Homo sapiens: one gene and its partner. The gene in region 1 interacts genetically with each later gene. Each region holds a gene or a part of one and is shown in the gene's direction. Other genes may lie near its edges.

Region 1 (3,755 bases):
AAATCCCTTTCAAAAGAATAATGGCTTCTTTCTTATAACATTAACTGGTAAGTTGATAATGCTGGTCATAAACCATATTTTTAGTTCCTTTGTGATTTGTATTATCTTCTTGTTTTTCTCTGAATTGCAGAATTTTAGTTATTGCTATACAAATAGTTTCAGGAAGGATAGAACAACATTTGTTTTCTAGCCATCTTTGGAGTAAAGCTGCGAAGTTGCATCTACCATTACTATTTCCCTTCTTGCCCCCTCTGAAGTTTATAAGTGACTAATCTGCTTTGCTGGGCAAGTCCTTGGTTTCCTTCTTTTAAGACTTTTATTTTCCTTTTTTTGAGACATAGTTTTGTTCTTGTTACCCAGGCTGGAGTACGATGGCGCAATCTTGGCTCACCGCAACCTCTGCCTCCTGCGTTCAAGCGATTCTCCTGCCTCAGCCTTCCGAGTAGCTGGGATTACAGGCGTGCGCCACCACACCTGGCTAATTTTCTATTTTTAGTAGAGATAGGGTTTCTCCATGTTGATCAGGCTGGTCTCAAACTCCCGACCTCAGGTGATCCGCCCACCTTGGCCTCCCAAAGTGGTGGGATTACAGGCGTGCACCACCGTGCCCAGCCAACACTTTTCTTTATGGGGGTAACAAGATCAGTATATGATCATTTTCATAGTTTGTTTTCTTTAGAATGGTGCTGTGATTTTTGTGTCTACTTTTTATGTCTAATTATTTGTTGTTATAATTTTGTTAAAGATCTCAGGAAACAGGCTCGACAGCTGGAAAATGAACTTGACCTGAAACTAGTTTCCTTCAGCAAACTATGTACAAGTTACAGTCATAGCAGTACCCGAGATGGAAGACGCGACAGGTATAGGTACTACCAGATTCTGTCTCCTATGCCTTAACTGTGTTTTTAAAGCATTAAAAAATAAACTAAAATATATAACTTCTGTAAGTTGGTCTATTGGTGAATTTTTGGTGTTTTGTTTTGCCATTCATTGTTTTATTTTTTAGTGACTTATTAAAATTCTTCTGAATTCTCGAGACTAGCATTTATTTGGAATCCTTAGGCAAAGATTGTTACAGTGTCAGAAGAAACCTGCTAGAACTTCAGAATAAGTTTGTATCAAAAATATAAGTGTCTAATTCAGCCAGTGTAGGGAAAAGGTGGCTGATTTGCCCGTGTGGCATGTATTTCTTGTGTTTTTCAATTGCTAAATGGACCTGTGGATCTACCCAGGTGCCAGGTATACATACTGCTTTTCTGGTGTTTATTGTATTAGAGGGTATCTAATGCACTGTGTATCCTTGTTATTAATTATCAAAGCTATCTTTAATTTTGGTACTTTTTTGGGAAACTAGTGTATTACCATATTAAATGTATGGAAAATACATTCTTATCTTTGAAGCTTATGCTCTCTGTAAGTCATCCACTTGTTTCAAGAAAATATTGGGAGTAGCCAGGCACAGTAGATGACGCGTGTAATCCCGGGACTTTAGGAGGTTGAGGCGGATGGATCACTTGAGCCCAGGAGTTCAAGACTAGCCTGGGCAACATGGTGAAACCCTGTCTCTAAAAAAAATAGAAATAAAAAAAAATTTTTTAATTAGGCAATATTTAAGACAGTTACAAAGAATAATATCATGAACCCCCATGACCCTATCTCCCATTTTTAAAAAATGATAATTACTCATTCCACTGAAGCCCCTTATGGCACCCCACTTTCTCCCACCCCATAATCCACATATATTCTTACTGCATGTTTATATTCCTGAGCAATTCATAGTATTCTATTATGTTATATAGTATATATATAATATAGTTATTCTACAACTTTTTCTTTAACATTTTTGAGATTCAGCTATGGATTCATTTAACTCTGGTATATTCATTTGTAATTCATATGTAGTATTTTATGACTATCACAGTTTAACCATTTGATGATGGCCATTGTTTCTAATTTTTGCTAATTAATAATAATTTTGATAGCTGACATAAGAGTGTTCATTATATGTTAGGTAAGAGCTTTCTATAAATGCTGCTGGGAACATTTTTACGCAGAATGTTTCTATATACCTAGCGGTGAAATTGCTGGTAGCAGAGTTGTTGTTAATCCACACTTATTTTACATACTTTTTCAAAGATTAGAAGTGAGTAGGATATTTGTCAGCTAATAAAAACAATGAAATCTGAGCTTAGATTTGAATCTAGATCTATCTCCAGAGCCCACACTCTAAACCCTACTATAGTGTATACATTTGAACAAAAAGCTGATTTCAACACTATAGCCAAATTACTATTTCTTTTTCATAAGGACTCCTTGGTTGTAAAGGCAGCAAGGCCAACATTGACTCTAGGATCTAAAAATAAATTACTAACACATCAAATAGATTGCATTGCTTTGGGCTTGGCTTTATTTAGCAAGTAAAGAGAATGAAGAATGTTCTTTCTATGCATTTTCTATGTTCTGTGTGCTTCATGAACTAATACTTTTGTTATTCCTCTAAAGGAAAAACTATCTTGAAAACATTTCCCAAGAAATTCTACCACAAACTGAAACTGGCTTTGTAGAATTACTTCAGCCTAACTCCCCTTCTAAATAAAAACCTAAGGCCATGAGGATCAGGATTTGATGTCTATTCTAAAGTGTCTTGTTTGATGCCCAGGTTGGAAGCATGTCACTATGAGTCAACTAAGCAATAACTAGAATATTATTTATTCCAGGCATCTTTCTTTCTTTTTTTTTTTTTTTTTAACTTTCTGTATTTTGAGAACTTCAAGGTCTATGAATCATTACCCACCTATAAGATGAATTAAATTTAACTGAATCCCAGTATTGTGAAGAATTAGTGTTTGGCCATTTCCCTTTACTCTTACACTGTCCTGATGAATATATGAATACAATGAGTATAGAATAACCAGTAGTAGAGATTGCTCTCGTGTTCATTCATTTATTCAGCAGAAGTTTAATGAGCATCTACTATGTGCCAGGCTGTATACTAGGTGCTAGGCATATATCTATGAATAAGACAGAGCAGTTTTTTCCTTCCTTCATGAAGCTTTAATTCTATTGGCATATTGTTCTTTTTCATATATCTGGTAGAGGAGGATTTATATTAGTAGTCTACAGAGCATTTATTTAATACTTTTCATTTGCCACACCCAGGCACTGTCACAGGGTAGCACAAAGTCTTCAGTAAGATTGGAGACTATAGTCATTGCCTGGGCATTTATCTGTGTCCAGTATAACTCTGATCTGTATTGAGCTGCTCATCAGATGCTAATACATACCTAACCTGATGAAGGTTAGTGGTGTTTTGGAAAAGGCAAAAGAAACACTGAGGACAGGTGGGTTTAGAATTTGAATCTGTCAAACCTAAGTTTCACTTGTAAAAAGATAGATTTTTGACTATTCAGATTTGAAAAGGCAATTTAACACAATTCTACAAAACAAAAGGATGATTGCATACTGTAAGTGAAAATGGAGAAGATTAGTACCAAAGCATGCAGGACATGGCTGTATATATTGGATTTAAAGCCAGTTCCTGAGTATTCGTTAGCTAGTTATCCAATCTGTGGATCATTTAAACCTCAATCTTATTTCCTCTTGGTAAGAGTCAAGGAAAGAAGAGAGAATGTAATGTTGAGGTTGAAGGAACCATAATTCCTTTGGGGTAAAAATGTAAAAGATCGTTTCTCACAGACCCTATATAACATAATCCATAATTCATTTTATGGCTCCTATTAATCACCTTATTATTT
Region 2 (3,755 bases), on another chromosome or scaffold:
TCTTTAAGCTTTAAAAATTATATTTTCCAGTTTTTCTATAATGAATGCATATTGTATTTACATTTAATTTTTATAATTCATAGGTTGTAAATAAATGGTGCTTATTTTGTAACATTACAATTCTTAATAAATCACTGATGTGTGATAACCTTAGGAAGTATGTAGTATTATATTTAGGAAGTATTTAGGTTATATTTTATGTTAGTATAAAATGGATGAATGTCATACACTAGACTTGAGAATATTAACCCTAAGCAGTATTAATGTTTTGTTTTCTTTTACTTTTTTACTTCACAGTGATGCGGCTGACTAAGCCTACTTTATTCACCAATATCCCAGTAACATGTGAAGAGAAAGACTTACCTGGTATGGCACATGCTTTCCTCTATTTGCACCTAGGGAAAGGTTGAAACCTGAATTGCCTGCATTACCTTGGACTAAGCCTAGCCCTGTAAATTTTATGCTAACCATTTGCTGGATTCTTTGTTGCCTATTTTTGTATCATGTGAAAGGTGGCCATCTGAGTAACAGGCCTTACTTATACTCTACAAGTCCAAATTATGTTGATATCCTATGGCAGTATGAGACAGTTTAAGATACATTCATATTCATAATACTATTAAAATTGCCTTTATCCTCAAATGTTGCATCAATGTATGTATTAGCATTCCCTTTTTTTTTTAAGAATTATTGGGGCTTTCTCTAGTATATTTTCTATCTCATGACGTACATTTTTCTTTGTTTCTAAAGTTTCCATTCCCTGTGAGATCAGAATTTTTTTGACATGCTTTGTTGTATTAAAATCTAGAAGTTAGACTTTTTAAATATCATCTTTGTCAAGAGGTTGTTTTTTAAAATATCTCTCCCAGCTATTTCTTTATATAAGTAAAAGTTATTTAAAGGGTAGATGTTAGAATTTTATGTTTTTCTCTTCATTCAGGAGATCTCTTTAACCAGCTGATGAGAGATGATCCTTCAACCGTTAATGGTGCAGAAGTTTTAATGTTGGGAGAAATGCTGACTTTACCACAGAATTTTGGGTAAGAATGACATATTCACATAAGAAACCTTGTAAAGCCATTACAAATTATGTTTTCAAAACAGAACCATGGGATGGGGAAATGCTCATGATACATTTACCTTTTTTTTTTTTTTTCTGAGATGGAGTCTCGCTCTATTGCCCAGGCTGGAGTACAGTGGTGCCATTTGAGCTCAGTGCAACCTCCACCTCCTGGGTTCAAGCAATTCTCGTGCCTCAGCCTTCCGAGTAGCTGGGATTACAGGCGTGCGCACCGCTCTGGCTAATTTTTGTGTTTTTATTGGAGACCGTGTTTTGCTATGTTAGCCAGGCTGACCTTGAACTCCTGACATCAGGTGATCCACCCGCCTCAGCCTCCCAAAGTGCTTGGATTGCAGGCATGAGCCACCACGCCTAGGACATGATACATTTGAGGGGCAAAAATATTATTAAAAAATCATACTATGTGATTATGGCTTTCTGTTATTAAAAAAAAAAGATATATACCAAAATAAAATGTTAATAGTGGTTCCTAGCATAATAGAATTTTAACTTTCTTCTTTAGATCTTACTATATTTTGTAATGGCCACATAGTCTTTTAACTACTAATGTAAACATCTTTTTCAGAAGCCAGTCTTTGTTTTTTTGCATCATAGTCCTCTCCCAAAATGAGTTATCAGACTTGTCAGCTAATTAGGAACTCTAAATTTATTTCTTCTGTTATCCTTAGCTGTATTATTATTCTAGATTAATAATAAGGTAGAAGCCCCTGGTTCCACTCTGTTTGCAACAGACAGAATTTGAGACAAAAAGAAATTTTACAGATTGTTTTTATAGTTTTACAGAATGTGGTCATTGACTAGTGTCTTGAAAAACTGGGAAATATATTCATGTAAAAAGTATAAAACTAAAATAAAACCACTGGTGATTTTTATTCAAGTAACCTAGGAAATAAAATAAATTGGTAAAAATACCCCAATATCAGTAACTTAGATCTCTTCTAGATTCAGGGAATAAGTTATTTCAAGAATGGAAACTTGGCTCTCTCTAACCTATTCAGATACAAATCCTAAGACTTTAGCATAGGTCTAATTTCAATGAGTCTTATCTCTAGTGAGGTTGGCATTTTGTACAGTAGTCAAAGGCCAAGATATATCATGTTCTATAGATTACGTCTGTATTTTGAATTGCACTAGGTAATGAATGAGTGGCCTAGTGTGAACAAAGGAATGTTGAAGCAGTATTTCACCAGATTTCTATCCTTCAGTAAATGTTTCTCCATTTGAAGTTCTTAGTGATTCTCAAACAGATTATTTAATGTAAAACCTGATGGGCACAGTGGCTCACGCCTGTAATCCCAGCACTTTGAGAGACTGAGGCGGGCGGATCATGAGATCAGGAGATCGAGACCATCATGGCTAACATGGTGAAACCCCGTCTCTACTAAAAATACAAAAAATTAGCTAGGCGTGGTGGTGGGTGCCTGTAGTCTCAGCTACTCGGGAGGCTGAGGCAGGAGAATGGGGTGAACATGGGAGGCGGAGTTTGCAGTGAGCCTAGATCGTGCCACTGCACTCCAGCCTGGGTGACAGAGCGAGACTCTGTCTCAAAAAAAAAAAAAAAGAAAAAAAACCTGAATGGATTTCTGCCTAAATACTTATTTTATTTTACAGGAATATATTTTTGGGAGAGACCTTTTCCAGTTATATCAGCGTTCATAATGATAGCAATCAAGTTGTAAAAGACATATTAGTAAAAGTAAGTAACATTCTTACTTGGGATGTATTTTAGTCTTTAACAAAGGTTTTTTTTTAGGCCGGGCATGGTGGCTCATGCCTGTAATCCTAGCACTTTAGGAGGCTGAAGCAGGTGGATCACCTGAGGTCAGGAGTTCAAGACCAGCCTGGCCAACATGGTGAAACCCCATCTCTACTAAAAATACAAAAATTAGCCAGGTGTGGTGGTGCACACCTGTAGTCCCAGCTACTCGGGAGGCTAAGGCAGGAGAGGCTAAGGCTTGAACCCGGGAGGTGAAGGTTGCAGTGAGCCAAGATCACGCCACTGCACTCCAGCCTGGGTGACAGAGTTAGACTCCATCTCAAAAAAAAAAAAAAGAAAAAAAGGTTTTTTTATATCTATTATGTTTTTGGCACTTCATTAAATGCACGTTTGATACAATAATTTTTAATTGTCATTAACAAGCACTAATGAATGCCTACAGTTATAAAGTATTATGTTAGGCATGAAAACATTTTTCCTATTCCACAAGATTTGTGATTGCTTGGGTGAGAAAATGTACTAGTCAAAGCTAAATAGCAGTTTAGTATTTGTTAATGTATGTCATTAACATGGAAGATGAAAGATCACTGGAGATTATGTCAATCTGGAAGGTTTCTTGGGGGAGAGGGAATGCGAAGAGGATCTTGAAAGAATGGGAGGATACAGATAACAAGGCAAGGGAGACATGGTAATCAGAGGCAGAGACATAGTGGTACACATGTGTTCTTTTAACAGTGAACAAATTTCACTTGGTAAGAGTCCGTAAGGTGGTACAGAGGAATAGTAGCTGTATTAGTCCATTTTCATGCTGCTGATAAAGTCATACCCAAGACTGGGCAATTTACCAAAGAAAGAGGTTTAATGGACTTATAGTTCCACGTAGCTGGGGACAATCATGGCGGAAGGCAAGGAGGAGCAAGTCATGTCTCACGTGGATGGCAGCAGGCAAAGAGAGAG

Evidence for each region. A genetic interaction does not mean that the proteins touch.
Region 2: changes in GOSR1 (region 1) and TRAPPC13 are lethal when combined (synthetic lethality), as found in Homo sapiens cells (one study listed by BioGRID).

Annotation. Positions count from the first base shown.
Region 1 is NC_000017.11:30,480,398-30,484,152, forward strand, and holds part of GOSR1 (Golgi SNAP receptor complex member 1), read left to right. Parts: intron 1-745; coding exon 746-860; coding exon of another isoform or gene 861-866; intron 867-3,755. UniProt on the Homo sapiens protein: Involved in transport from the ER to the Golgi apparatus as well as in intra-Golgi transport. It belongs to a super-family of proteins called t-SNAREs or soluble NSF (N-ethylmaleimide-sensitive factor) attachment protein receptor.
Region 2 is NC_000005.10:65,635,004-65,638,758, forward strand, and holds part of TRAPPC13 (trafficking protein particle complex subunit 13), read left to right. Parts: intron 1-297; coding exon 298-366; intron 367-940; coding exon 941-1,040; intron 1,041-2,692; coding exon 2,693-2,777; intron 2,778-3,755.